Homo sapiens: one gene and its partners. The protein of the gene in region 5 purifies or fractionates together with the protein of the main gene of each other region. This does not show direct contact. Each region holds a gene or a part of one and is shown on either strand. Other genes may lie near its edges. The genes, in order: KIF20B, DEDD, DNAJC3, ARB2A, FBXO38 and DEDD2.

Region 1 (3,796 bases), on a different chromosome or scaffold from region 5:
CTTCTGCTCTTATAGATTAGTAACCCTTGTACTTCATATTATATCTGGGATCATTAAACAAGAAGAATTTGATTCTTACATAGTGAGGATATCACATAAAAATACAGGTTAATTAAACAGAAATGGTCAGTGAGGGAGTGAATGGCGGTCAGAAGAACATATGGAATTGATTGTATTAGAGCAAAGTCGTGTAGAAAATTCACATAAAAATTGTACCAGAACAATGTTGTAAAGTCTACTTGCAAACATCATATAAACATCAAACCATGAAGTATAACAAAACAGGAAAAAATTTCTAAAAACGAAGAGTCAGATTCTGGCCTGTTTTGAAGTAAGGTTTCGAGGATCTGAGACACTCATCTGACCCTTAATGGAAATTGTATGAAATATAAAAAGATATGTAGATATAAATTTATATATCTAGAAGATTGTTAATTATATTTCAAGATTTAATCATGGAATCTATGAGGAAAGTTTAAAAGAATATAATTTATACTGGGCACTTACGTGGGGTGAGTTTATTTGTCAGAGTGAACTTATGAATTAAATTGTAGCTAATAGTGTATCTGTTCTGGGTATAATTTGATCTGTACTGATTATAATGGCTAAAGTTCTTACATGTATACAACATTTATGTAGTCATTTAACTTACATTACGTATTAACTCATTTTAGTCTCTTAGCATTATTCTGTAGAGTAAGTTGGGCAGGTAAGGGTATCTTTATTCTAGCAATATACATATTAAGCCTGAAAAAGGCAAACTTTTATGCATTTTCAATTAGTTGAATCCTTCTGTACAGATTTTCAGGTTCTATTAATAGTTAAATCTATCCAATGCACAGTGTCGTCAACCCATTTGTCATCTTGATCTTCACAACTTTGAGATAGGTGGTATTATTCCTATATCACATTTGAGGAAACAGTCGTAGTATGAAGCAGTTTATTAATGGTTACAGCTAGTAAGGCTATATTATATGAATTCCCAAAGTTTTAACATGTCCCTTCTAATTTTAGCTATGAAAATTTAAGATACTCCATTTGCCTATTGCTAATATAGTAAAAGCCACAATATAATTGTAGCTTAAAACTGTTCGTTAGGATATGGAATGTCTGCCTAGGGTTTCTCGTCATCTCCTCCTCTCTGTCCCATATTGAAATGACAATAAAGATTTGTGGTACAAAATTTAAATAATACTGAAAGTTAGAAATAGCTGGTAATGCTACTCAGAGGTAGGTAGCTGCCATCATTTTGGTGTACTTCCTTTGCTAACTTTGTATTACCTTGTGAAATAATAATTTTTACATAAATGGGCTCATACCACATGTTTTAAAACCTGTTTTTTCTTTTTTTCTCAACAGCTTATTTCATTTTTTTTTTTTAATTAGAAGTTTACTTTTACATGTTTTGTATGTTTGAATATTGGCTTATATGGTGACTTTTTGGTTTTATTAAGGTTTGCCAGATTAATAACAATTTTCTTATTTTTAAAGGGTCTATCCATGTTAGTTCAGCTATCACTGAAGACCAAAAGAAAAGTGAAGAAGTGCGACCGAACATTGCAGAAATTGAAGACATCAGAGTTTTACAAGAAAATAATGAAGGACTGAGAGCATTTTTACTCACTATTGAGAATGAACTTAAAAATGAAAAGGAAGAAAAAGCAGAATTAAATAAACAGATTGTTCATTTTCAGCAGGAACTTTCTCTTTCTGAAAAAAAGAATTTAACTTTAAGTAAAGAGGTCCAACAAATTCAGTCAAATTATGATATTGCAATTGCTGAATTACATGTGCAGAAAAGTAAAAATCAAGAACAGGAGGAAAAGATCATGAAATTGTCAAATGAGATAGAAACTGCTACAAGAAGCATTACAAATAATGTTTCACAAATAAAATTAATGCACACGAAAATAGACGAACTACGTACTCTTGATTCAGTTTCTCAGATTTCAAACATAGATTTGCTCAATCTCAGGGATCTGTCAAATGGTTCTGAGGAGGATAATTTGCCAAATACACAGTTAGACCTTTTAGGTAATGATTATTTGGTAAGTAAGCAAGTTAAAGAATATCGAATTCAAGAACCCAATAGGGAAAATTCTTTCCACTCTAGTATTGAAGCTATTTGGGAAGAATGTAAAGAGATTGTGAAGGCCTCTTCCAAAAAAAGTCATCAGATTGAGGAACTGGAACAACAAATTGAAAAATTGCAGGCAGAAGTAAAAGGCTATAAGGATGAAAACAATAGACTAAAGGAGAAGGAGCATAAAAACCAAGATGACCTACTAAAAGAAAAAGAAACTCTTATACAGCAGCTGAAAGAAGAATTGCAAGAAAAAAATGTTACTCTTGATGTTCAAATACAGCATGTAGTTGAAGGAAAGAGAGCGCTTTCAGAACTTACACAAGGTGTTACTTGCTATAAGGCAAAAATAAAGGAACTTGAAACAATTTTAGAGACTCAGAAAGTTGAATGTAGTCATTCAGCCAAGTTAGAACAAGACATTTTGGAAAAGGAATCTATCATCTTAAAGCTAGAAAGAAATTTGAAGGAATTTCAAGAACATCTTCAGGATTCTGTCAAAAACACCAAAGATTTAAATGTAAAGGAACTCAAGCTGAAAGAAGAAATCACACAGTTAACAAATAATTTGCAAGATATGAAACATTTACTTCAATTAAAAGAAGAAGAAGAAGAAACCAACAGGCAAGAAACAGAAAAGTAAGCTAAATGTTATTCAAAATATTTTAAAATACACAAAGCATTCATTTTGCTATGCAGCTTTAAAAAAGTTAGATAGTCATACTTAATCTGGTAAAGCGTAGCATGTATGATGAGTGAAGAACTTGAACTTTGTCCATATAAACCTTTGGACCATAGGTTATGTGAAAAGATCAGCTTATAAAAATCATATGAAATATTTTCTGAAGAACTCATTCATAGTTTGGATATTCCAAATTTGTGAAAAGATATAATTTTGTAAAGATTGTTACCATTTCACATGTATGGTCCTAAGCAGTTAATGATGCATTACCATAGAAAAGTGGTTTATGTTTTTTAGATTGAAAGAGGAACTCTCTGCAAGCTCTGCTCGTACCCAGAATCTGAAAGCAGATCTTCAGAGGAAGGAAGAAGATTATGCTGACCTGAAAGAGAAACTGACTGATGCCAAAAAGCAGATTAAGCAAGTACAGAAAGAGGTAGGTTATTTGAAAAGTTATGTGGCCAGTTTATGATAAAGATTGTTTTCCTTATATATCAAACTTAGACATTAATCTTAGGATTGAATAGAACATTTATCCACTTTATAATTTTTCTTAAAATTACAAGAACAGTTACTTCACGAGAGAAAATTTAGCTGATTTAAACAAGCTGAAGAATGTCCAACATTAAGAGAAATATGTACCTTATGAAAGATTAGTCTTTTTCTTCTTTAAGAATTGCTAAATGTAAGTCCTTACAAAAAAGTGGAAAGCAACTTGTTTACAGATAGTACTTAGGAGAATGTGCAGTATGATTTTTTAGTTTTTATTATAACTTAATTTTTAAAAGGGAATGCAATCACATTATTCCAAATTTGAAATATAATAGATGTATACAATGAGAAGGAAATACTTCCCACTCCTTCGAGCTGTCAAGTTTACCTTCACAGCATCAAATGTTACCAATTTCTTTCTTTTTCTGCACTTCTCCCTCCTTCCCATTTTCTTGTATGACCACTTCATTTTCTGTCGTACTTAGACCTTCTCTAAAGATTGGAGCACTTTTTTTTTTTTTTTTAAACTTTGAGGTAGT
Region 2 (3,796 bases), on a different chromosome or scaffold from region 5:
GACAGTACCATCCTATACTGTGCACTCTCTGGTCACACTCTCCAATCACACAATCAATCCTAAATTCCTGTTAATGCTACTTCTAGATATTTCTTAAATCTATCCTACCTTTCCACCTCCACTGCCATGGTTCAGATTACAATAATCTCTCACCTGGACTACTGTAACTTTAAAAGTTCTCTGCAACACCAATCTTAACCTACCTAAATCCATCCACTGCCACATCTAGTTCAGTTAGCTGTCTGAAGTCCACAACTGACCAAGTCACTTTCCTGCTTCAGACCCATTGATTGCCCCATCGTTATCTATAAGAACACTCCAAACTCTTTTTTTTTTTTTTTTTTTTGAGACAGAGTCACTCTGTCGCCCAGGCTGCAGTGCAGTGGCGCGATCTTGGCTCACTGCAACCTCCGCCTCCCAGGTTCAAGCGATTCTCCTGCCTCAGCTTCCCGAGTAGCTGGGACTACAGGCACCCACCACCACGCCCAGCTACTTTTTGTATTTTTAGTAGAGACGGGGTTTCACCATATTGGCCAGACTGGTCTCGAACTCCTGACCTTGTGATCCGCCTGCCTCGGCCTCCGAAAGTGCTGAGATTACAGGTGTGAGCCACCACGCCTGGCCGAACACTCCAAATTCTTTACACACACATCAAGCCTTCTAAGATCAGGCCTACCTTCCCAACCTCATTTCCCATCACATCCGCTTTTTATTCTCTAACATTATCAGTTTGTTTATAGTTCACATACATCATGCAATTTCTCTATACCTTCTTCAGGCTCTTCTCTTTGCCTGAATGCCCCTCTCCCTTCTCTATTCCACACCCCCATCATCACTCTTTTTCAGATGGCTAACTCCTACTCATTCTTTAAGAGTCAGCTCAGATGCCATCTTCAAAATGCATTTTCTACACCCCCATGCAGAGATAAGTAGTCCTCTTCTGTGCGCTTATGGAACACTATGCATATCTCCTTTACACCATTTATCACCATGTACTAAAATTATTTGTGTATTTATTATCCCATTAGATCCTACTCAACTCATGGAGAGATATATTCATCTTTATATCCCTAGTGCCTAGTAATGGACAGAGCCTCAAATATAGTGGGAGCAACCCACTGTTGAACTGAACTTAATCTCCAAGAGATCACCTCAAGCAATTCCAATTAAGAAACAAATTCACAAAAGTCCAAGAGAGGACCCCATTAAAAACAGATACAGGTAATTCAGTTACCATGCATATATTCTAACTAGCCATAGCCTCCTCTGCAATGTCCAGAACTACCCACACCATACCACACCACTCTACCCTACTCAACAATTAAACAGGTTGCTCTGTCCATTTTATACAAAAAGGAACTGAGGCTAGACTAGGAAACAATAAAATAATAAGCTTCTTTGGAAAAACAAAGCTGATAGAGAAAGCTGAAGAGTAAGTAGGAACTGGTCCTTTCTTCCTCAGATGAAAAACTAAAATGAAAGCACAGAGAAACTCATTCCCTTAAGAAAAGGGGAGGTACACTCTGGGATCACTTAACCCTATACCATGGGTTCTGATATGTAGACAGGAAATGTAATCCATATATAGTTTTGAGAGCCCAGATGCCCCACCCAAAGCATGGGAAATAGCTATTCAACTATAGACTGGTATTCCTTGCCTCTTCCTCTCGATTCACCTGTTGCTGTTACTGGGTACAAATGAAGGTGCTAAAGGAAAATAAGTTATTGCTCATAGCAGGCAACATGAGAAAACTGAGCCTCCTCAGAGCCCCTGCAACTTCTCTTTGTTCCCTATCCCACCTGTTCCCTTGGGCCAGCTGTTGATTGTGAGGCTCTCAGATAAAGCAGATTGGGTAGGTTTCACATTAAACCAACCAGAAGAGCTGGTTGCTCCACAGTTCCCTAATTTAAAGTGTGCTTAAACCCCAGGAAATGAAGAAACACTGTCCCCACATACCCTCGCAATGGAAAATAAGGCAAAATACAGGAAAGCACTGTGGTCCTAATTATGTATCAATGGATGTAATTCTATAAGCTTCAATCCTTTGAAGTTAACTCCCTACATTTGAGAGGAAACAAACACACTAGCCACCTTTAAGTCCTAGATCCCAGGCTAGATCATCAATGTACTAGGAATTATAATAGCTTTTAGGTCAGTGGTTCTGAACCAGGGGCAAATTTGACCCCTGGGGAATATGTGGCAATGTCTGGAGACATTTCTGATTATTATGCCTGGTGGGGAAGGGGACTGCCATCAGCATGTAATGAGTAGAAGCCAGGGATATTTAGAAACATCCTATAGGACAGGTGCAGTGGCTCCCGTCTGTAATCCCTGCACTTTGAGAGGCCAAGGTGGGAGGAACACTTGAGCCCAGGAGTTTGAGATCAGCTTGGACAACATGGTGAAACCCCATCTCTATGCAAAATATAAAAATTAGCCTGGCGTGGTGGCATGCACCTGTGATCCCAGCTACTTGGGAGGCTAAGGTAGAAGAATCGCTTGAGCCTGGGAGGTCGAAGCTGCAGTGGGATGTGATAGCGCCACTGCAGTCCAGCCCAGGTGACAGAGTGAAACCCTGTCTCAAAAGAAAAAAGAAACATCCTGTAATGCACAGAACAGTCTGCCACAACAAAGAATCATGCAGCACAAAATGTCAATAATGCCAAGGATGAGAAACCCTATTCTAGGTGGAGCATGGTAAAGGGTCAAAAGAATGCATGTCACTTTCCACACTAGATCTAGAAAAAGCCATCTGGTCCCTCCATCCAAACCCATCAAACAACATTCCAGAAGAAAAGAAAAGCCTGTCGGACATACATGTTCATTTAACTCCCAAGTCCAACTGCACTAAGGTGTTTCATGCCACTCCAACCTTGGGTCCTCTGTCACCTGCTGTTGCCATTCAGCTGAGGAACAGGTGGTAGTTCTACATCCACTTCTGCCCCATCCCAGGAGGTCTACTTTGACCTAGTTCAATCTGGAGTTCTATGGGGATATTAGAAATGTAATCCTCTGCAAGACAGACACAAAGGATCCTGCTCGTAAGCCTCAGGGTCATCTTTAAAGTCTTGGAACTGGATGAGCAGCAAATTCTCCTTGTGAGGTCACTAATCAGACTTATATTGCTTATTCAATGAAGCAAACATAGAAATATGTAAGTTCCTCAAGGCCATGTGCTTGGGAGAAATATGAGGATACTGTCATGCAGGTTAAGAGGCAGCCCTCTCCACTTAATGCAACCCAGATAAGGGTTCCAAGAATCTATCTAACTTTAACATTAAAAGAATGTGATGAGGCCTCGCATGGTGGCTCACACTTGTAATCTCAACACTTTGGGAGACCAAGGCAGGAGGACTGCTTGAGCCCAGGAGTTCGAGACCAGCCTGAGCAACATGACACAACTCCATCTCTACAAACAATAAACAAAAATTAGCTGGGCATAGTGGGACATACCTGTGGTCCCAGCTACTCTGATCGCACCACTGCACTCCAGCCTGGGGTACAGAGTGAGACCTTGCCTCAAAAAAAAAAAAAAAAAAAGTGATGAAAGTTCAGCTGATTAGTAAAATTAGAAAAGAAAACATGACCAATTTCCTCTAAAACCAAAATATACTCGTATTTCTGTGACAGTGAAGCAAGGGAGCTCAACTTAAAACATACAGAGATTCTAGATGACAGGTATCAGAATGGTGAGGAGAATGTAACCCTCTGAACAGAAAATTAGAACTAACTCAAGTCTTGGTATCTGAAACACTGCCAAATACCAAGAGACGAAACTCCAGCACACAGAAAGTC
Region 3 (3,796 bases), on a different chromosome or scaffold from region 5:
ATGGCTGGACAGTTGGAACAACCATATTCTCACCTGCCATCTCTGATGAGCTCTTCAGCTGACTCAATCAGCTTATTAAGTTTCTTTACTTGTTTATAGTGTGCAAAACACCTTTTATGATCCTGGTCAAGTTTAAGACATTCCCGAACTTCACTGTTCATGTATTTAAAAAAGGAAAATACTCCATGTCAAAACAATCAATGAGTAGTTTTCCACAGAAATCACAATAAAAGTATTTTTTGTTTGCAACGATTAAACAAAAACCATACTGAGACTTATAATTTACTATATACATTTATACGTGGCATTGTACCATGCATACATTTGTTAATTCAAATTAAAATGACTTACTAGCATTATATAGTAAACATTCCATTTTGTTTCTATAAATATAAGAGCCTTCCTGTTTAATAAGCAGCTTCATGAAAACAAACTATGTGGAATTAAAGTAACTTGGGAATAACACAAAATATATAAATGGATATACAATATAAAAACAGCCTTAACTACCATCATCTTATTAATTTAATATTAAAATGTTAAAACAAGATGAGGTAATCTTACTGCCAACAATTAAAAAAGATCAGACATGTGTGTCACTAGAACTGACCTGAGGGACAGTTCGTGGTCTCCTAGTTGGTAGTACAGTGTGCTTATTTTATAAAACGCTTCAGTATTATCATTCTTCAACTTTGACGCAGCTTTTAAGTCACTTATAGCTTTCCTAGGTTCTCCTTCTTTTATAAAACATTCAGCTCGAAGTTCCCGTAGTTCTGCATCCCAAACACAAACCTTGAGGAACAAAAGAACTAGACTTTAAGAAAGAATAAATTATGCACATTCATTGTTGCATTCCACGTATTTTTTATCTACGTATTTATCAACATAAAACATTCTCAATTGATGTGATGACTTATATAGTGCAAATATTATTTTAAAATCTGATACAATTTAAATGTGACAAAACTGATGTGACAAAATAGTTTCTCCAAAAATGTTGTAAATGAATTCTAATGGGGGAAGAGATATATATAATAACAAGGCCCTTTTCTTACCTCCTTCGATTATATAATTCTAAGACACTGAAAATAAGAAAACATAGCATTTACTATTGGAGGGTTGTTCCTAGTGAAGCATATTTGAAGAGAATATTCTGTTATCAGATTTTTATACTTAATCAACAATTCTAATTTGTAGTCAAAAAAATAAAACCTAGGTTCTACATTGGCAAAATACTTTTTTCTGCTAATAACCACATTATGTTCTTAGCTGGGCACATTGACTCATGCCTGTAATTCCAGACCAGCTTAGGCAGCAAAGCAAGATCTCATCTCTATAAAAAGTTTAAAATTATTAACTGGGTGTGGTGGAACACACCAGTGGTCCCAGCTACTCAGGAGGCTGAGATGGGAGGATCACTTGAGTCCAGGAGTTCAAGGTTACAGTGAGCTACAATCGCACCACTGCACTCCAGTCTAGGTAACAGAGAGAGACCCAGTCTCTAAACAAAAACCTTTTTTAAGAAATTATCTTCTGTAAATGTCACCGCCTTAAAAGTAAATCCTCATATCAAGAAAAAGAAAGAAAGAAAGAAAAAATACCGTGAGAGGGCAGGAGGTTGAGGCTTCACCATTCCTATTTTATCAAAAAGTCCATAAGGGTTTAGGAAACACAATAGTATTCTTCAAATCATAAACCCAAGAGCTCATCAATAAGGCTGGTGGAAGTATCTTTGCATATTTCTTAGAGCTGCTCTAAAGTCGTATCGACTTTTCACATATACAAAAATATCAAAACCAACATTATACATAAATATCATGGACAATGAACTAAGTTCAAAATGGATAGTCTATGGGAATGTAAAAATGTAAACTATATTTCCTTAAAAAAGCATAAACAAAATAACCCAGTAAAACATGAATTCTACTGGACCATATCACAATATCTTCTGTAAAATTATCAACAAATTGCCCATTCTACATACATCATAAGTTTAGAGCCAAAATTAAATGAAACTGTATATCAAAATACTGTGAAAATCACAAATAAATGTGAATTACGACTGCTTCCATTTGAATATTTCAGTAGACTTCCTTCGGAAATCAGTTGTCATTAAATCCTTCAGAGGCAAGGAAACCTAGACTCAGGTTTCCCTAGCTAGAACTCTCTGGATCCTATCAACCATTATTATTATTAACTTTTTTTTTTTTTTTTGAGACGGAGTCTCACTCTGTGGCCCAGGCTACAGTGTAGTGGCTCACTGCAACCTCTGCTTCTCAGGTTCGAGCGCCTCAGCCTCCCGAGTAGCTGGGATCACAAGCATGCACACCACACCCAGCTAATTTTCTTTTTTTTTTTTTTAGACACAGGATTTTGCCATGTTGGCCAGGCTAGTCTCAAACTCCTGGCCTCAAGTGATCCACCCACCTCGACCTCCCAAAGTGCTGGGATTACAGGCATGAGCCACCACACCCAGCCAATTATTAATATTTTTAGAGGCAGGGTCCCATTCTGTCGCCCAGGCTGGGGTACAGTGGAGCAATCACAGCTCACTGCAGCGACAAATTCTTGGGCTCAAGTGATCCTCCAGCCTCAGCTCCCAAGTAACTAGGACTACAGGCACATACTATCAACTCTTTATCTGCCTTATTCTCTAGAAATTTTTCTCTAAACATTCCTCTTTCCTCCCGAACATCATTTTTCCTTTTACTCCAACCATCTTTTTCATCTTTTATCCCATTATCTAACCGCTAGAGTTTTCTTCCCAAAAAAATACAAAATCAACTAAAATAGCAAAGCAAGCAATTTATAAACATATTTAACTCTCATGCCACAGCACATTCAGTACATTTACTGAAAACTTCAGTCCAAATTTTGTTGTCTAGGAACACTATTTTATACTTAAGAGGCAAAAGCCCAAGGACCAACCTGATTTTCTCCTGTCTAGGTCTTTGTGGTATGTGACATGTCGAAGTATATAAATGTGCCTTACAATAAGTGTCAGGCTGGTCAACTGCAGTATCTAAGAAACTTACCTCTAAAATCTTATCAAGGAAGGCTATAGCAGCAGTATAATCTCCACTTCCAAAAGCGTTAAGTGCTTGTGAACGCAAACGCTGCATTTCATCAGATTTTATAAGTTGAGACTGTGCTTCCTTTTCTTCATTTTCACTTGGATTAGATTTGAGCTATAAGGAAAATAAAAAACTAAGCAGAGTTTTTAATCTCTTAAATCTGATACCTGTAATATACACAAGGGTAAACCATTCCAAATACTTAAGTTCATTGGGTAAAAAGGGTAAAGAGATACTGGAAAAACTGGCTTGTCTGATGACTGGATGCAGCAGGGAAGGCCCTTGATTTCTACCGATATGGTCCATGAGCATGAACAACAGATCTAGACTCAGAAGACCTGGGTCCCAAAAACTTACCGGGAAGCAAATACATGTAGGCACGTGAAAGGACAGAGAAGAACGGAGGAAGGAAAGCACGTTTTTCACTTTCTTACATATAGCTCTGCAGAATAAATTAACTTGAGTTTTATTTATTTTGCCTTCTACTTATAGTTCCTAAGTATTTTTTTAAGTATAAAATAACCAAAATAATGAAACACATAGGGAAACTGAAAGAAGGGGCCAGCTTTTTTAGAGGTTGTAAGATTTAAAAAAAGATCTGATACCAAAAGGGTTAAAGTACAAGAAAGAATTTAGAAGGAAATAAGAGTAATACCTTACTAAAAGGTGCATGATGTGGCTTTAAGAGATCTGCACACTGCCTCTTTTTAAAATAACTTTAT
Region 4 (3,796 bases), about 54 Mb from region 5:
GGTATTTTATTTCTTTTGTGGCTATTGTGAATGGGATTGCATTCTTGATTTGGCTCTCAGCTTGGACGTTATTGCTGAAATGCTACTGATTTTTTTGACATTGATTTAGTATCCTGAAACTTTGCAGAAGTTGTTTATCAGATCTAGGAACCATTGGGTAGAGAGCATGGGGTTTTATAAGTGTAGAATCATATCATCTGTGAACAGAGATAGTATGACTTCCTTTTAATTTGGATGCCTTTCATTTGTTTCTCTTGCCTAATTGCTTTGGCTGAAATTTCCAGTACTATGTTGAATAGTTGTGGTGAGAGTGGGCATGCTTGTCTTGTTCCGGTTTTCAAGGGAAATGTCTCTAGCTTTTGCCTATTTAGTATGATGTTTGCTGTGGATTTGTCATAACTGGCTCTTTTTATTTAAGGTATGTTCCTTCAATGTCTAGTTTGTTGAAAATTTTTAACACATGTTAAATTTTATCAAAAGCCTTTTCTGCACCTATTGAGATGATCATATGGTTTTTGTTTTTAGGTTTGTTTATGTGTTGAATCACATTTACTGATTTACATATGTTGACCCAACCTTGTATAACAGGAATAAAGCCATTTTGATCATGGTAGATTAGGTTTTTGATGTGCTGCTGGTTTTGGTGTGCTAGTGTTTGTTGAGGATTTTTACATCTATATTCATCAGGGATATTGGTCTAAAGTTTTCTTTTTTCGTTGTGTTTCTACAAAGTTATGGTATCAGAATGATGCTAGCTTCATAGAATGATTTGACGAGGAGTCCCTTCTCATTTTTTGGAATAGTTTAGTAGGGTTGGTTTCAGCTCTTCTTTATATGTTGGGTGGAATTTGGCTGTCAATCTATCTTTTCCAGGACTTCTTCTGGGTGTAGGCTTTTTATTACTGATCAATTTTGAAATTCACTATTGGTCTGTTCAGGGTTTCAATTTCCTTCTGATTCAATCTTGGGAGGTTGTATGTTTTGAGGAACTTATCCATTTTTCTCTAAGATTTCTAGTTTGTGTAGGTAGAGGTGTTCCTAATAGTCTCTGAGAGTTTTTTTTTTTTATTTCTGTGGGGTCAGTTGTAATGTTCACTTTGTCATTTCTGATTGTGTTTATTTGGACTTCTTTCCTTTTTTCTTTATTTGTCTAGCTAGTGGTCTGTCAATCTTATTTATTCTTTCAGAGAACGACGTTTTGGTTTCATTGACCTTTTGTATAGTTTTTCATGTCTTAGTTTTGTTCAGTCAGCTCTGATTTTGGTTTTTTCTTCTGCTAGCTTTGGGGTTAGTTTACTTTTTTTTTTTTTGGTTGCTCTAGGTGTGATTTTAGGTTGTTAATTTGAGATCTTTCTAACTACTTGATGTAGGTGTTTAGTGCTATATACTTTCCTTTGAAGACTGCTTTAGCTCTGTCTCAGAGAATCTGGTATGTCATTTCTTCCTTTTCATTAGTTTCAAAAAATTTATTGAATTCTGTCTTAATTTCATTGTTTACCCAAAGTCATTCAGGAACAGATTGTTTAATTTCCACATAATTATATGATTTTGAGAGATCTATTCTTGTACTGTGGTTAAGAATGTGGTATAATTTCAGTTTTTTTTTTTTTTTTTTGAATCTGTTGAGAATTCCTTTATGGCTGAGTGTGTGGTCAATATTACAGTATGTGTCATGTGCAGATAAGAAGAATGTATATTCTGTTGTAGTTGAGTGCAGTGTTCTGTAGATATCTGTTAGGGCCATTTGGTCAAATGTCAAGTTTAGGTCCTGAATATCTTTGTTAGTTTTGTGCCTTGATGGTCTGTCTAGTACTGTCAGTGGGTGTCAAGGTGAGGTCTTCCACTATTATCGTGTGGTTATCTAAGTCTCTTTGTAGGTCTCTAAGAACTTATTTTATGAATCTGGGTGCTCCAATGTTGGATGCATGTATATTTAGGGTAGTTAAAGTTTTCATGTTGAATTGAACCCTTTATCATTATTTAATGCCCTTCTTAGTCCTTTTTGATTATTGTTGCTTTCAAGTCTGTTTTGTCTCAAATTAAAAGAGCAATCTGTCTCTTTTTTGTTTTCTGTTTGCTTGATAGATTTTTCTCTATCCCTTACTCTGAGTCTGTGGGTGTCATTGCATGTGAGAGGGGTCTGTTGAAGATAGTATGTAGTTAGGTCATGTTTCTTTATTCAAATTGCCACTCTGTGTCTCTTAAGTGGTGTAGTTAGTCCATTTACATTCAGAGTCAGTATTGATATGTGAACATTTGATCCTGTTATGCTGTTATCTGCTTGTTATGTAGACTTAATTTTGTAGTTGCTTTATGGTGTCAATGGTCTGTGTACTTAAGTGTGTTTGTTTTTGTGGTGGCCAGTAATGGCCTTTCAATTTCATATTTAGTGCTTCCGTAAGGACCTCTTATAAGGCAGGTCTGGTGGTAGTGAATTCCCTTAGTATTTGCTTATCTGAAAAGGATTTTATTTCTCTTTTACTTATGAAGCAAAGTTTGGCTAGATATGAAATTCTTGGTTAGAATTTCCTTTCTTTAAGAATGCTGAATAAAGGTCCCCAGTCTTTTCTGGCTTGTAGGGTTTCTGCTGAAAGGTCAGCTGTTAGCCTGATGGGGTTCCCTTTGTAGGTGACCTCTCCCTTCTTTTTAGCTCCCTTTAAGATTTTTTCTTTCACTTTGACCATGGAGAATCTGAAGACTATTTGTCTTCAGCATGGTTGTCTTGAATAGCATCTTACAGGGGTTCTCTGCAGTTTCTGAATTTGAATGTCTACCTCCCCAGTGAGGTTAGGGAAATTTTCATAATTTTTAATTATGTTTTCTAAGTTGCTTTCTCATGTCTCTCTCTTTCAGGGATGCCAATGTGTCATATGTTTGGTCTGTTTACATAATCCCATGTTTTTTGGAGATTTTGTTCATTCTTTTTATTCGTTTGCCTTTATTTTTGTCTGATTGAGTTCATTCGAAGAATTGGTCTTTGAACTTTGAGATTCTTTCCTCAGTTTTGTCTATTCTTTTCTCAGCACTTCTGATTGTATTATGAAATTCTTTTAGTTTTTCATCTCTATCAGATCAGTTTGGTTCCTTCTTAAAATGACTATTTCATCTTTAAGTTCTTGTATTATTTTATTGGATTCCTTAGATTCCTTGGATTGGGTTTCAGCTTTCTCCTGAATCTTGATGATTCTCCTTGCCATCCAGATTCTGAATTCTATGTCTATAATTTCAGCCTGGTTAAGAACCATTCTTTGGCAGGTGGTGCAGTCATTTGGAGGTAGGAAGACACTCTGACTTTTTTTTTTTTTTTTTACTTTGGAATTATTAATATTATTTCCTATGATATAACATAGTTAAAGCTAATTTTCAGGAGGAAAGTTTCATTTTGTAATTATTCATTATTTACACTATGACGGGGAGGGCTTTAGTATTCTTTTTTTTTTCCTGGTTATTCCTTTTTTTAAAAAATTATTTTAGGTTTGGGGATACGTGTGTAGGTTTGCTACATAGATAACATGTGTCACAGGGTTTGTTGTACATATTACTACATCACCCAGGTATCAAGCTCAGTACCCAATAGTCATCTTTTCTGCTAATTGCCCTCCTCCTCACCTCCCTCTCTTAAGTAGACCCCAGTGTCTGTTGTTCCTTTCTTTATGTTCATGAGTTCTCATCATTTGGCTCCCACTTACAAGTGAGAACATGCAGTCAGTATTTGTTTTTCAGTTACTGTGTTAGTTTGCTAAGGATGATAGCCTTCAGCTTCATCCATGTTCCCGCAGAAGACATTATCTCATTT
Region 5 (3,796 bases):
AATGATAAAATATTTTCCAACAAAGGAAAAAAGTCAAAACCATGAATCATTTGTATCTTCACTAGCCCAGGGGCATCACCATCCAATTTAATTACCAGAGACTAAAATCAAGACATTATGCTTTTTGTCAAAACCAAGAATCACTTGTATCTTCACTAGCCCAAAGGCACCATCATCCGATTTAATTACCAGAGACTAAAATCAAGCCATTATGCTTTTTTTCTTTACTTCCTACCTGCTCTCCAAGACGTTGAGTCATTTACCAACTCTTGTTGAATGTCTCTGAAACATCTCTCCAGTATGCCTACATCTCTCCTTTCCCATTGTACTACCACTACATCAGACCTTTCTCTTTTTTTTTTTTTTACCTAAATGTTTTAATAGCTTTCAAACTGGCCTATTTTCTTGCCCAGCTAAAATTAGTTCTTATAGCAACCAGGGCAGTCTTTTAACAACAAACCAAACAATATTGATACCTTACTCAAAACTTTTTAATAGCTTCCCATTGCCTTAGAATAAGATCCAGCTTCTTAAATTGGACCACCAAATGCTGTACGATCTGGCCTGCCCTCATCTTGTACTACTTCCACCACTACATCATTCTTGAACATGACAGCTGGTGCCTAGCATTGCACTAACTACTGCCTCCTAGAATTCCCTCCTTCCATGTTTTCATGGCTGGCTCCTTCTTGACTTTTAGTTCTTAGCTGAAATGTTAATCTCAGAGATGTCTTTCCTTGCCATCTGATCTTAAGCAGCCACCAGTTTATTCTCTGTCACATCACACTTTTTGTTACATAAGGCATTACTATCTGATGTTTTTATTTTTATTTTTAAAATTTTTTCTCCCCCAACTAGAGTAAGCCATGAGACTAGGGATCTTGAATTTCACCACTGTTTCTCAGCTCCAAGGAATACTAACAAATTGTAGTAAGATGCTCAGTAAGTATTCAAATGAATGCAATGAAAGAAATCGTTTAAACAACTTTTGGGTATCATATTAAATGTTTGCACAGGCTATTCTGGCAACCTAAAAGCAGTTGATCAGCAACTTTGGAAAACCTTATCACATTGATGTTTGAATGTACTTCTTTTCATGCCATTCCCTGCATAAAAACCTAGTGGTTTCCCTCTGCCTACTGCAAACAATTCTAAGCTTTTTAGCAAGGCTTTCCAAGCTTTTAACAATCTGGGGCCCAGGCTACCTTTTCAGCCTTGTTTTTTCTTTCGCATCTCTATCACAACACAGATAACTGGTTTGTTTGTTTGTTTGTTTGTTTGTTTGTTTGTTTTAACCACTGGACTACTATTCTTCCAAAAAATGTAGCATTCTTGTATGGTGGTATATGAAATGTCACCTTATTTCAGTGAACCCTTCCTTGACCCAATGAGAGAATTAGTTGTTTCTTGTCTGTGTTCCCTTTGAACTTTTGAACTGTTATAGCTCTTAGCAAGTATATTCTGACCTTATTCTATGTGTCTAACATCTTTGCCAGAATGTGTGCATCCTCTTTAAGAGCAAGGAGTATAAATTTCCCACTTGCTCATAGTTCCTGTAGTGCAGTAGGCTCTAGAAACTCCTCAGGTTAAATCCTAGCAAACTGTTAAAACCTCTAGACCTCCATTTCCTCAACTGCAAAAATCAGGCTAGTAATAATGCCCTCACACAAGATTGCTACGAGAAATAAATAAGAAAATGTTTCTATAAACATTTAGCATAGAGCCTGCCATAGAGTATGTACACATTAATTACTGCTACTCATAATTGTTAGTCAATTGAATGAAAGAAGAAAATTGATTGGCTTTTATCATGAAAGGTTTCTAGGCAAGGTCATTTCTCATTTTGGCAATAACCAAAATATAGATATTGCAGGCTAGAGCTGGGCAATTATTCAGGGGGAGGTGTGCTGTTGTGCTTGTTTAAAACCAAAGCAATTCCCACTGTCCCTGTGAAATTTCAAACCTCTCCCATATAATTCAGTGACATTAATCTGAATGGCATCTTTTTGGCTTAATCATATTTTGCCTTGTTTCTTTGTTAACTGTTTGAGTTTGTATGAGTTTGATGGGCTTTCTCCAACAAATGATCCTTTCCCATCTGTGATTTTCTCTCCTGTAGACTGATTAAATACTTCTTAATATCTGCAGTAACAAGCACAGTGTATGCAGTATATGCTGTTCTTTCAGGGCAGGCCTAGTAATCAGCGGGACTGTTCAGTTCTTAGGGCGGCCACAGTTTTGCCTGCCATTGTAGTTCTTTATACTTCTTTTGGTTTTTACTTTGTGTATATTTTCGTTGAAGCATTAAATGAGATGGAAGACATCGTCCAAGAAGATGGAGAGGTGGTGGCCGAGAGTGGAAATAATACTCCAGCTCACAGCCAGGCAATTATTCCTGTGGATGTTGATGAGGAACAAGCAGGTAATCATGTGATCCATCCCACATTCATCATTCTGAAACTACGGCCTAACTGTAATGAAGTACATGAGACAGCGAGAATGATTGTTTTCTGACCTTTCAGCTAATGATACGTTTTATGCTATTGATTACTGAGAACTGTAATACATTGCTGGTATTCTTGTTGCATGTATCTTACTAAAGTTTGTCTTTTATTATTTGTGACTGCAGCAACAACTGCTTTTTCTTTATAGCCACGTGTGCATGAGTTTGTCCATGTATGTGTAGAAAAAGAAAACACTCAAATTGTTGATGGGAAAATAAATGACCTGATTAAATATTCTGCTATTGCCCTCCCCTCAATTCAGTTAGAGAGGAGGAGCAGTTGAGAAGTTGACCTGGTTTAGTAAACAAACCAAAACCTAGCGTCTGTTTGCCATTGGCTGACTTAAGACAGGATATAGAGTCTTAGGCCCTTAAAGATTAACTCGCATAGCCTTTCATTTTGTAGATGGGGAAATTAATTTTCTTTCAAAAGTTTAAATGATGTGCTCAACACCACTCAGCCAATAATCAAGGGACAGAATTGAAATTGAGAAAACTGAAGTTTTCTCATTCTCTGCCTGTTAGAATGCTACCTTGTCTTTGAATCGAAAATATGCTACCCTGTTTTAAGAGTGTTAGAGATGCAGTCACTCATTCAACAAATATTTATTGAGTGCCTACTCTGTGTCAGGCATTGTACAATGTGACAGGAAAAAAGCTAGGTTCCTTGGAGCATACGTTTATTGATGGAGCTAATATTGGTCACTTGTCAGAGAGAATTAGGTTATAAGAACTAGGTTTAAAAGCTATACTGCCAAGCAGATAAAACATTTTTTACATAAATACACATATTCAACCAAAATGTAACATGCGTCTAGCCTTCAAAAATGTATCTGCTACATCTAATGAGATAGATCTATACTCAAAGAATATGGAGTCTTATTTACCAGTCCCATATGTTTCTGAGTTCATCTTCATTTACTAGCCTTGGCTCATATGTTTGAAAAATTGAGAAAATATATAGCTTAGTTTTAAAATTATTATCACTGTTATTTAGATTATTTTTAGGATGATTTTATGATACTCTTTGAAATAGTGAAGGTCCTGCAAGGGGATGCTGTATCATTTTCTATTTTAATTTGCCTTTGGAAATGCATCAAGTTGGTTGGCATATTAATCATATTTAATGTTGACATAATGGTTTAGAGTTGAGTTGCTTTCACAGTATCTTATCCAAGTGCATTATCAGTTAAAATGTGTGCCAGGGGAGGCTGTATAGAGCCACAAAGCATCTCTGTTGATTCCAGATCCCTGGAAACAGTACTTTGCATTAGATCCTTTCTTGCGCAAAAA
Region 6 (2,876 bases), on a different chromosome or scaffold from region 5:
CAGATGTGGGGAGAGTTGTGACAGAAACCGACTCAAACTGGCTTCAGCAAAAAGGGGAGTTGAGTGTAGCTGAAAATCCAGCTACGATCGTGGGCTCATGTGATGACCTCAGGAATCTTTTTATCTCTGGGGCTGGCCCTGCGTAGGCTTCCTTCTCTCCTCTTGGCACAGTGGCTCCCAGCAGCTCTGGGCTTCCAACCCATCATCTTAGCAGCTCTGTGGCAAGAGAGTACCTGACTCCCAGTAGAGCCAGCACAGGTCCAGCCGCAAGCCTCCCGGGCCTGGTCAGGACCCTGCGCATCCGCAGTGCTGGCTCAGGTGGATGGGAGGGATGGGGATGTGGTTGGCACCATGTGAATCTCATTGTTTGGGGGCAGGGTGTGAGGCTGGTTGCCTTAAGGCAAGTCCATTAGTTCATGCATTAGTTCTTCACAAATACATATTGAACACCTACTATGTGCCACAGTTACACAAGTGAACAAAACAGACAAAAACCCCTTCCTTGCTGTCATCTGTCTCTCCATGCTGAGTGTAGAGACAGATAATGAGCAGATAGTAACTGACAGAGGAGGTTGGAAGGTGATAAGTGCCTTGGACAAAAATGGAGCAGGGTGTGGGACCTGGCATGCTGCAGAGAGGGCTGGGTGGGTGGTTACAGCTGTAAATAGGTTGGCCTAGGTGGGCCTTGTTGGCAAGGTGGCTTTTGAGCAAAGACCTGCAGGAAGAGAGGGAGCAAGTGTTGTGCAGATCCAGGGAAAGAGCACCCCTGGCGGTGGGGAGGCTTGTTGGAGCAGTGAGGAGGTGGTGGGCTGGAGAAGAGGAGGACGTACTTGGTCAGGGAACCCCACAGAGCCGGGGAGGCTGTGTCAGGACTAGGGTGTGGCTACCGGAAGGGGGTGGAGGGAGAAGGCTGGAGGGAGGAAGGGTGGCGTTCCCCATAAGTGTGTCTAGTGTTGGCCCCCTCCCTGACAAATCCCTCCTTCCCCTGCAGACATCCGGCTCCGGGTTCGAGCAGAGTACTGCGAGCATGGGCCAGCCTTGGAGCAGGGCGTGGCATCCCGGCGGCCCCAGGCGCTGGCGCGGCAGCTGGACGTGTTTGGGCAGGCCACCGCAGTGCTGCGCTCAAGGGACCTGGGCTCTGTGGTTTGTGACATCAAGTTCTCAGAGCTCTCCTATCTGGACGCCTTCTGGGGCGACTACCTGAGTGGCGCCCTGCTGCAGGCCCTGCGGGGCGTGTTCCTGACTGAGGCCCTGCGAGAGGCTGTGGGCCGGGAGGCTGTTCGCCTGCTGGTCAGTGTGGATGAGGCTGACTATGAGGCTGGCCGGCGCCGCCTGTTGCTGATGGAGGAGGAAGGGGGGCGGCGCCCGACAGAGGCCTCCTGATCCAGGACTGGCAGGATTGATCCCACCTCCAAGTCTCCGGGCCACCTTCTCCTGGGAGGACGACCATCTCTACCCCTAGAGGACTGTCACTCTAGCATCTTTGAGGACTGCGACAGGACCGGGACAGCAGGCCCCTTGACAGCCCCTCCCACAGGATGTGGGCTCTGAGGCCTAAACCATTTCCAGCTGAGTTTCCTTCCCAGACTCCTCCTACCCCCAGGTGTGCCCCCTTAGCCTCCGGAGGCGGGGGCTGGGCCTGTATCTCAGAAGGGAGGGGCACAGCTACACACTCACCAAAGGCCCCCCTGCACATTGTATCTCTGATCTTGGGCTGTCTGCACTGTCACAGGTGCACACACTCGCTCATGCTCACACTGCCCCTGCTGAGATCTTCCCTGGGCCTCTGCCCTGGCCTGCTTCCCAGCACACACTTCTTTGGCCTAAGGGCTTCTCTCTCAGGACCTCTAATTTGACCACAACCAACCTGGGCTTCAGCCACATCAGTGGGCACTGGAGCTGGGGTGCACATGGGGCCTGCTCACCTTGCCCACACATCTCCAGCCAGCCAGGGCCCTGCCCAGCTTCAATTTACAGACCTGACTCTCCTCACCTTCCCCCCTGCTGTCCAGAGCTGAACATAGACTTGCACTTGGATGTCACCTGGAGTGTCACATGGGAGTGTTATGGCAGCATCATACCAAGGCCTACTGTTGCACATGGGGCCAAAACCAGTAAACAGCCACCTTCTTGGAAAGGGAATGCAAAGGCTTTGGGGGTGATGGAAAAGACCTTTTACAAATGATACCAATTAAACTGCCCTGGAAAGGGCATAGGTGGGCATCGGCCTCTCTAGGACTCTTTATTTATTATTTAATTTAAATTTTTTTTTTAGAGTTGAGGGTCTTGATATGTTGCCCAGGCCAGCCTCAAATTCCTGGGCTCAAGCGATCCTCCTGCCTCAGCCTCCCAAGTAGCTGGGACTACAGGTGCCCGTCACCATGCCCAGCTTTTGGACCTCAGTGGGCTGGGAGGAGGAGTGTTCCTGGCCCAGCGTTAGGGACTGGAGTGTGGGCAGGATGCTGGACCATATGCCAGCTGATAACCACACGCTTGTCCTCCCCTCTGGGTGTCAGTCTTGTCCTCTGTCAAAGGAAGAAATAGAATACTGCCTCGGAGTCAGAAACCCTTCCAACCATGTTCACACATGCTTTGCTCCTGTATGTCCTTGGGGGCTCCCAGGAATTTTTTTTTTTTTTTTTTTTTGAGACGGAGTCTTGCTCTGTTGCCCAGGCTGGAGTGCAGTGGCATGATCTCAGCTCACTGCAAGCTCCGCCTCCCAGGTTCACGCCATTCTCCTGCCTCAGCCTCCCGAGTAGCTGGGACTACAGGTGCCCGCCACCACGCCCGGGTAATTTTTTGTATTTTTAGTAGAGACGGGGTTTCACCATGTTAGCCAGGATGGTCTCGATCTCCCGACCTTGTGATCCGCCCGC

Evidence for each region.
Region 1: the proteins of FBXO38 (region 5) and KIF20B purify together in Homo sapiens (affinity purification with western blotting, with the first as the bait; one study listed by BioGRID). This does not show direct contact.
Region 2: the proteins of FBXO38 (region 5) and DEDD purify together in Homo sapiens (affinity purification with mass spectrometry, with the first as the bait; one large-scale study listed by BioGRID). This does not show direct contact.
Region 3: the proteins of FBXO38 (region 5) and DNAJC3 purify together in Homo sapiens (co-immunoprecipitation; one large-scale study listed by IntAct). This does not show direct contact.
Region 4: the proteins of FBXO38 (region 5) and ARB2A purify together in Homo sapiens (affinity purification with mass spectrometry, with the first as the bait; one large-scale study listed by BioGRID). This does not show direct contact.
Region 6: the proteins of FBXO38 (region 5) and DEDD2 purify together in Homo sapiens (affinity purification with mass spectrometry, with the first as the bait; one large-scale study listed by BioGRID). This does not show direct contact.

The regions. Positions count from the first base shown.
Region 1 is NC_000010.11:89,735,896-89,739,691, forward strand, and holds part of KIF20B (kinesin-like protein KIF20B), read left to right. Parts: intron 1-1,491; coding exon 1,492-2,722; intron 2,723-3,062; coding exon 3,063-3,201; intron 3,202-3,796. UniProt on the Homo sapiens protein: Plus-end-directed motor enzyme that is required for completion of cytokinesis. Required for proper midbody organization and abscission in polarized cortical stem cells.
Region 2 is NC_000001.11:161,126,018-161,129,813, forward strand, and holds part of DEDD (death effector domain-containing protein), read right to left. Parts: intron 1-3,796. UniProt on the Homo sapiens protein: A scaffold protein that directs CASP3 to certain substrates and facilitates their ordered degradation during apoptosis. May also play a role in mediating CASP3 cleavage of KRT18. Regulates degradation of intermediate filaments during apoptosis.
Region 3 is NC_000013.11:95,757,036-95,760,831, reverse strand, and holds part of DNAJC3 (dnaJ homolog subfamily C member 3 precursor), read right to left. Parts: intron 3,189-3,796; coding exon 3,036-3,188; intron 793-3,035; coding exon 611-792; intron 154-610; coding exon 34-153; intron 1-33. UniProt on the Homo sapiens protein: Involved in the unfolded protein response (UPR) during endoplasmic reticulum (ER) stress.
Region 4 is NC_000005.10:94,101,615-94,105,410, reverse strand, and holds part of ARB2A (cotranscriptional regulator ARB2A isoform 1 precursor), read left to right. Parts: intron 1-3,796. UniProt on the Homo sapiens protein: Plays a role in the regulation of alternative splicing, by interacting with AGO2 and CHD7. Seems to be required for stabilizing protein-protein interactions at the chromatin-spliceosome interface. May have hydrolase activity.
Region 5 is NC_000005.10:148,421,696-148,425,491, forward strand, and holds part of FBXO38 (F-box only protein 38), read left to right. Parts: intron 1-2,302; coding exon 2,303-2,422; intron 2,423-3,796. UniProt on the Homo sapiens protein: Substrate recognition component of a SCF (SKP1-CUL1-F-box protein) E3 ubiquitin-protein ligase complex which mediates the ubiquitination and subsequent proteasomal degradation of PDCD1/PD-1, thereby regulating T-cells-mediated immunity.
Region 6 is NC_000019.10:42,197,945-42,200,820, reverse strand, and holds the end of DEDD2 (DNA-binding death effector domain-containing protein 2), read left to right. Parts: intron 1-991; coding exon 992-1,383; 3' UTR 1,384-2,223; downstream 2,224-2,876. UniProt on the Homo sapiens protein: May play a critical role in death receptor-induced apoptosis and may target CASP8 and CASP10 to the nucleus. May regulate degradation of intermediate filaments during apoptosis.